2 linked regions of the Homo sapiens genome follow. The protein of the gene in region 2 interacts with the protein of the main gene of each other region in a pairwise test. Each region holds a gene or a part of one and is shown on either strand. Other genes may lie near its edges.

The links.
Region 1: the proteins of ZBTB21 (region 2) and ABTB1 interact in binary tests that used the Homo sapiens proteins (3 or more experiments, as listed by UniProt).

The regions. Positions count from the first base shown.
Region 1 is NC_000003.12:127,675,951-127,679,694, reverse strand, and holds part of ABTB1 (ankyrin repeat and BTB/POZ domain-containing protein 1), read right to left. Parts: intron 3,726-3,744; coding exon 3,581-3,725; intron 3,424-3,580; coding exon 3,264-3,423; intron 3,160-3,263; coding exon 3,114-3,159; intron 2,729-3,113; coding exon 2,612-2,728; intron 2,528-2,611; coding exon 2,409-2,527; intron 2,231-2,408; coding exon 2,132-2,230; intron 2,020-2,131; coding exon 1,852-2,019; intron 1-1,851. UniProt on the Homo sapiens protein: May act as a mediator of the PTEN growth-suppressive signaling pathway. May play a role in developmental processes.
Region 2 is NC_000021.9:42,008,188-42,011,931, forward strand, and holds the start of ZBTB21 (zinc finger and BTB domain-containing protein 21), read right to left. Parts: upstream 2,174-3,744; 5' UTR 2,065-2,173; intron 1,411-2,064; exon of another isoform or gene 1-1,410. UniProt on the Homo sapiens protein: Acts as a transcription repressor.

The sequences.
Region 1 (3,744 bases), on a different chromosome or scaffold from region 2:
CCGAGTTATACAGACCTGGGTCTGACACTTCTAGCTGTGGGGCCCTGGGCAAGTCACTGCACCTCCCTGTGCCTCTAGTTCCCAGTCCATGAGGTATAGATAACCATGCCTACCTGCGGGGGCTGTCAGAATGGTGGGACAGAGGCAGCTAGTCAAGACCTATGCAGGGACTCTGCCAGGGGTGGGAGACTATCTACCAGCTCCCTCCCTCTCAAGAGGCTGTGGGGACACAGAGCCCACCTACAGATACATCCTGTGCTGGATAAGACTGAAGCCCTCAGATTCAGGCCAGAGCCTGGGTGGCACAGGGAGCAAGCTGCAGACAGAGACAAGGGGAGCTCTGCGACCACATTACAAGCCATGTGCCATGTGCCATGCCACCTCCTTTACCTGGGTAACCCATGCATCTGCACAAGGCCTTAGGAAGTGACGACGAGAGCTATCCCCATGTTCTAGAGGCACAGAGCAGTTAAGTAACTGGCCCAAGATCACAAAGCTCACCCAGTGTCACACAGCTCAACCAGTATCAACCCAGGTTAAGAGCCCAAGCCACACTCTGAGACAAGGTGCCCTTTGGGTGGCGAGGCTCCTTGAAGAGGGAGCTTCTCCAGGGTGGGCAAAGGTAACCCCTGCTACAGGGGCCAGAGAGCTGGGCTGAGCTGCAGGAGATGCCCAGTAGAGGGGGTGGGAAAGATGGAGGCTGAGGGGCTGTCAGGCCGCGCGGAGGGATGGACAAGGGAGCTGCCACTGGAGATAGAGCAGCAGTAGGGACTGCCCTCTGTCTCCCAGCATGCTTCCTCCCCTTCCCCCACAAAACAGGGCCCTGGCCACAGAATGACTTTCCAAGCCTCCCTTGTTGGCAGGTAGGCACGAAGTTCTCTCCAGGGGAACATGAGAAGTGGTGCAATTTCCGGTGGCTTCTACAAAAACAGCATTGCTTGCCCTGCCTTCCTCTTCCTCCTAGAGCATGAGTTTGCCTAGGACCCAATCTCCATGGCCAAACGCGATGCCCCAGGCAGGATGGGTAAGCTACGGCCTGTGGACCAAATCCAGCCTGTTTGTGCAAGTAAAGTTTTATTGGAATGCAGCCTCACCCACTCATCTCTGTACTGTCTCTGGCTACCTTTGCGCTACAGAGTTGAGTAGCTACAACAGGGCCATATGGCCCACAGAACCTGAAACACTCACCTTCAGAGAAAAGGTTTTTGACCTTCACCCTTAGGCATACAGGGGCAAGATGGAGGGATGACCTGATCTTCCGCAAGCCACTTGCCCTGGGGCACCCACCTCAGTCAGAAGTGAAGGAGAAACAAACTCCCCTCTTCTTTAAGCCACCAGATATGGGGATTGCTTTATAGTGCGCGCGCACGCGCACGCACACACACACTCTCTCTCTCTCTCACACACCCTGGCAGAGCAAACCTTCAGCACTCTGCTGCTGCCCTGCAGCCTTGGCTTACGGACACCTTGGGGCAGCTGGAGACAGAGGCAGGCAGCAAGGGAAGAGGAGACTGGGAACCCAGAACCCCAGGGATCTGCAGCACCACAGAGAGGAGGCTGTCCCCACCCACCCTCCACCCTCCTGCTAGAGAAGCTGAGGATCCCAAGTGGCTGACAAGTGTGGAGTGTCTGTGACACAGGCTCATCACTCATCCTCTCTCTGGAGCCCAACAAGGCTTCCTCTACCTGAAAGAAAAATCCAAAGTCCCACAGCCTTCCCCTCCAGCCTTCTCAAAACGTCAACCATGGGGCCAGCTGGGCCCTTCCACAGACCCCCAGGGCCCTGGCGCTCCCTCTCAGCCCACGGCAGCACAGGTTGTGTGCCATCCCCAGCTCTGCCTGAGCCCCCACCTCAGTGTGGTCGCTGTACATGTAGTAGAGCACGTGAGTGAAGACGTCGGGTGAGATGCCATGCAGGGTGACGGCTGGGGGGCCCCCTGAGGTCGCTGGCTCCTCGCTCTCTCGGAAGTGGTCATCCAGCAGGGCTCGGAAGTAGTCACTGCGGCCACAGAAAAAGGCCTGGGGGAGGCCGGGCTCAGGAAGTGTGAGGGCCAGGGTCTGTCTCCTGAGGAGCTAGACGGGGGCTCAGGGCAACGGGCTGGGGCCAGGGGCAACAGGAGGGCACAGGCACCTTGTGGCAGAGGAAGCTGCAGCCAGCCACTCGGAAGCAGATGTCAGGGCAGCTGTTGAAGCCGTCAGGACAAGGGAAGGGCAGCTCCCAAAGATCACCCTGGGGTACAGAAGAGGTGACCCCATCAGAGCAGTTGTTCACAGAAGTGAACGACTAGGTTCAGAAAAGGGAAGTAACTGGTCCAGGACCACACAAGGAATTGAGCCCAAGTATCTGGGCTGCCTGTCACGGCCTGCCATCCCAAAACGCCCTTCCTGCCCACCAGCCCCGCACTTACTCGGAGCTCGGGGGGCAGGGCACAATCGGCCAGCAGCGCCATGTCCTCCCGGAGGCGGGGGTCTGCAGGTGGGGGCTCGATGGTCAGCACCTTCACACACGTGCCTGGCTTAGACGCCACTACAGGGGAAGAACAACTTCAGGGAGCCAGGCCAGCCCTGCCAGGCCGCACCCATGGCCCCGGGCCCCAAACCCTGCTCGCACCAAACTCAGACACCTTCTCGCACTTGGCCTCCAGGTCGCTGAGCAGGTCCCACAGCTGGCATTGCTTGGCCAGGCGCTCACAGTCACTCACATGCTCTACGCCAATGTCCAGGCGGCCTGGGGGCAGTGGGGAGGATGAGGGCCTGCGGGACCTCAGCTGTCATCAGGCCCACAGAAAAAGGGTGATCCCCTCCCACCTGGCCACCTGGCTGCAGGACTAGGACTCCTGGGCCCACTTGCCACCATGGTTTCCCCATCAAAAGCTGTTCTACAGGCCCCAGGGAACAGATGGGAGGGCCTCAGCATGTGGGTGGGACAAGCTCTTCCTGAGCAGGCACACTAGTCCTCTCTCTTGCAACCCAACCCGAGAGGCAGCTGGAACCACCCCGGGGGGACCATGAAGTGTCTAGAGGTGAAAGGTCAGCCCAGCCACACCTAGGTGTACTGCTGTCCAGAAGGACGGCCCACTCCCTCTCCTCCTACCCTGGACCCAGGGGGTCACCTGTGTACAGGTACTGCAGCAGGGCCCCAAAGGCCACGGGGTTGATCTGTGGGCAGAAAACCAGAAAGTAATGTCAGAGGCAGCCACCCAGCACAACCTCCTGCTGTTCCTGGACAGTTCATGCCCCTCTGCCACCCTGAAGGGACATACCAGTGGGTGCCTGAGAACCACGACACTCTTGCCCTTCCATTTGGTGTCCAGCATGTTGGCAAAGTAGGCACTACGTGCACCCAGGACGCAGCGATGCACCCGGAATGGCTTCCCGTGTACTACAAAGACCACGTCACTGTGGATGCCCTGCTCTAGAAGCCTGGGGAGGGACAAGCCAGGAGGGAGGATACTTGGCACAGCCCCACCCCATTCCTCGGAGCACTCAGAACCCAGTGCAGGCCACAGTCAGAGCAGACTCGCCACACCCACCAGGGCCACCGCACCCCATGCTGCACCCCTCGTGTGCCCTGGCTCACCGCTGCAAGAAGTCGTCATAGTAATCCCGCCTCCTGCAGGAAGCCGTGACCTGCTTGTAATCGCGTAGAGCCCGGCGGATGGGGTCACTCAGTGCCCCATAGAGGCAGCGCTCACCATCGAAGGTGTTGGCCTCGCAGCGGGCTCCTGGGGGAGGCAGGGCTCA
Region 2 (3,744 bases):
TCCATTGGCTTTGCGGACAACTAAAACTGTCCCTTCGGCTGGGCGCAGTGGCTCATGCCTGTAATCCCAGCACTTTGGGAGACCAAGTGGGGTGGATCACGAGGTCAGGAGATCTCAAGGCCATCCTGGTCAACAGGATGAAACCCCGTCTCTACAAAAAAAAAAAAAAAAAAAAAAAAAATTAGCTGGGCGATGTGGCGGAAGCCTGTAATCCCGGCTACTCAGGAGGCTGAGGCAGGAGAATCGCTTGAACCAGGGAGGCGGAGGTTGCAAAACCAGGGAGGCGGAGGTTGCAGTGAGCCAAGATCACGCCATTGTACTCCAGCCTGGGGCAACAAGAGTGAAACTCTGTCAAAAAAAAAAAAAAAAAAAAAAGAAAAAAAGAAAAGAAAAGAAAAAATTGTCCCTTTAATTATCTCATTTCCATCGAGAGACCTTCTTAACTTAACCCCAATTTTGTTATTTACAATTTTTCCTTCAGAGTGTACACATCTAATATTCAACAGTGTAAGTTCCTCGAGGGCAGGGGTTATATCTTCTTCAACTTCTATTTCAACAGAATGAAGCACATTATACTTTCAATAAAGTGTTAAAAAGGAAAAATAAACAAAAAGTTACTTTTAAGTAAACCAGCACTTCAAATTTTGACTTTCTTTTTAACATCAATATTTAGGGGTGCTTAAATTTAAACTTAATGACTACTAGTCCTTAGAGATCATCATTTACTCCAAGTACACGAGGAAAGCTTTAAAAGATAATTTTCCATGAGAAATCTTTCTAAAATGGATTAACCCACTTTCTTGTCTTCTTAAACAAGGTATGAGGACCGTAATGTAAGCTGCTTAATTGAGGACTCAGGGTCATCGTGTGAACAATCGCTGGACTATTTTGTAACACACGCGTGCCCTCGGAGGCTCGGTGCCAGGGCTGTGAGCGCTTGCACGAAAGGAAAAACCCCAGGCCGTGTGAAGTCTAACTTTCCCCGTCCTCTCGGTCAGGCAATCCCACCGGGGCACCTGTCTAAAAACACCCCGCCTCCGAACGCGCGCTCTTGCGGAATTCTCCCGAACCGCAGAGCCCTCGTGGCTGGGACCGCATAGCAACCGGGGGCAGAGTGCGAGCCCCCAGCGGTGTGCTGGGATGGAAAAGCAGGAGCCGCTGAGGATGGACTACGGGGCGTGTTCCCGAAAAGCCGGGAAGAGATGTGGCGGGGCTGCCGCGGGCGTCTCTAAGGCCGGCACGGGTGGCGTCTTGACTCCCTGCCCCTCCAGCCGCGGACCTCGGACGGGGGGAAGGGGGCTCCTCCAAGCGGGGAGACGGTCGCCGGCCGAGCAGCAGGGCTCCTGGCCGGCGGAGGGTGCTATGCTCTGCGGGACCGCCGGGAAGTCCCAGACAAGGTCTGCGGGGGCTCTGGAGGAAAAAAAACGCGCTGTGAGGTCCAGGCGTCCGCGGGAGGGGCCGGGGGCGGGGAGGGAGCGTCCAGCGGGCACCGAGCGGTCACGCTCCGGCCACCGGGCCGAGGACGGGGCGGCGGGGCTAGGTCCCGGACCGTGAAGGGAGCGGCGGGTCGCGGCAGGTGCGGGGTCCCCAAGGCCGCCGGCCAGCTTCCGCGCACACCCCGCGGCCCGGGCCGCCGGCCCCCAACCCCTGCCCGGAACAGGAGAACGCGCCCTTCTCCACGAGGCGTTTCAACCGCTCCGCGCGAGGGGCGCGCGCCTGGGCCAGGCGTGTCCCCTACCCCAGGGGCAGCTCGGCCAGGGTGAAGAGTGAAGCCCGTGAGGGAATGGAGCATGCGCATTCGCGAGGGCGAGGCCAAGTGCTGGCAGGGAGCGTGCGCAGTGTGAAGGTACAATCGGCTACGTGGGAACCCGGGACATGCTCGGTGAGCGCCCAGGTCCCGCGCACGCGCAGAAGCGCTCGGAGCCCGCAACCCGCTGGTGGAGAAAAAAGAGGAGAGAAATCACCTCAGAGTTACGTCAGGAAAGGCCGCGTTTTGCGGGGAGGCTGTAGCCTCCCAAGGAGCCCCGCAGTTCTCCTAGAGCTAGGGGCGTGACAGTTACTCACCGGTCTTCAGTCTCGAGGCAGACGCCGGGCCCCTTTCCGCTCACACTCGGCTCGCGCGCGCCGCAGCCGCCGCTGCCGCTGTGATTCCATCCATCTTGAATTTGACGTCATCCCACACCAGGGATGAGGTCATCGCAGGCATCGCTCGTCACGTGCGCGGCACTCTGATTGGGCGCCGGGCGCCGGAGGGCGGGGCGGGGGGGGGGCCTCGCGGCGCAGGGGGACGGGGGAGGGCGGGCCTGCCCGGAGCCGCGCGCCGAACGGACGCTGCCGCGCTGCAAGCCCGCGCTCTCGGTCCATGAGGGGAGCCTGCGGCGGCCGTTAGGGGAGGCGGCCGGGCTGGGGGCCACGGCGAGGAGGCTGAGCGCCCCGGCCGGGTGGAGTCCGTCGCGGCGAGGAGCGCGCCGATTCTCAGGGGACTTTGCCGCCTGCCGGAGGCGCCCTTGCTGCGGGGTCGCCCCGGGTCATTCGGCCGCGGTCCTGCCCAGCTGGGCCGCCAGTAGTCCCCGCTTCCGGCGCGGCGGGATGCGTGGCGCGAGCGCTTAGTCCCTCGGAGGGGAGGACGCGCTCCCGTTCACCGGTGGACGGCGGGCGACTCCCCGAGCCGACGACCCCGACAGCGACGGGAGCGACGCGCGGCTTTCTGACGGGCGCGGGCGGCGAGCGGGGCCCTGCGGTCCTCGGGTCGGCGGCAGACGCTCCCGGCCCGCGAGGAAAGCCCGCGGGAGGCGGCTCCTGCCGCTCGCTAGTCGCTCAGAGCGCTTCCATTTCCTCCTCCCGACGCAACCTGGCCACCTGGCCCCTGGGCGGGGACCCGGCGGCCGCGGCCAGGGCGTCCGGGCTCGTTCGCCGCGCAGATGGGGGTCGGTCCTGACCCCCGCCGGGGCGTCCACAGCGGCCCGCAGGCAGCCGGAGACTTCGCATAGTGCCCGGCTCATCGGAGGGCTGTGATCTTTTTTTTTTTTGCAGAAATATTACAACTCCACTGATGAGAAAACTCACTTCGCTTTCAGTCAAAACCAGAAATTAGATAACAGAAATGCCACACTGTCAACACCGACCGGGAGGAAAGCCTCGCTGGCGGAGACCGCTCAAGGGAGCCCTCCGCGCGTTCTCCCAGCCCGGGTCGCAGGTGGAGGGGGAGTGCCTCCTGCAGGGACGGTTCTCCCGCAGACACTCAAACTCCGGGATGTAAAACCCCTGTTAATAATTGTCAGGGGTCTGTTAATTGCCAAATACAGTTTTTGAAAGTTGTATGCACTAGGTAAAATAATTTATGTAATGTTTGGAAGTATGTGAAAGACAGACATTAGATTGATACAAATTAAAAATTTGTTGCCAAATTAACAGCTCTGTTGTAGATTATTAGTTTGACTAATTTTAAGAGGACTCTTAGTCTTACATAAAGAATCTTGCACCTAAAAATTTTCTCCTACAACTTTAAAACACTTTAAATTTTTTTTTTTTTTTCCTGAGATGGAGTCTCTGTCAGTCCCAGGCTGGAGTGCAGTGGCATGATCTCAGCTCACTGCAGCCTCCACTCCCTGGCTCAAGCCATCCTCCCGTCTCAGCCTCGGCAGTAGCTGGGACTATAGGTGCATCCGTCACACCTAGCTGATTTTTGTATTTTTGGTAGAGATGGAGTTTCACCATGTTGCTCAGGCTGGTTTCAAACTCCTG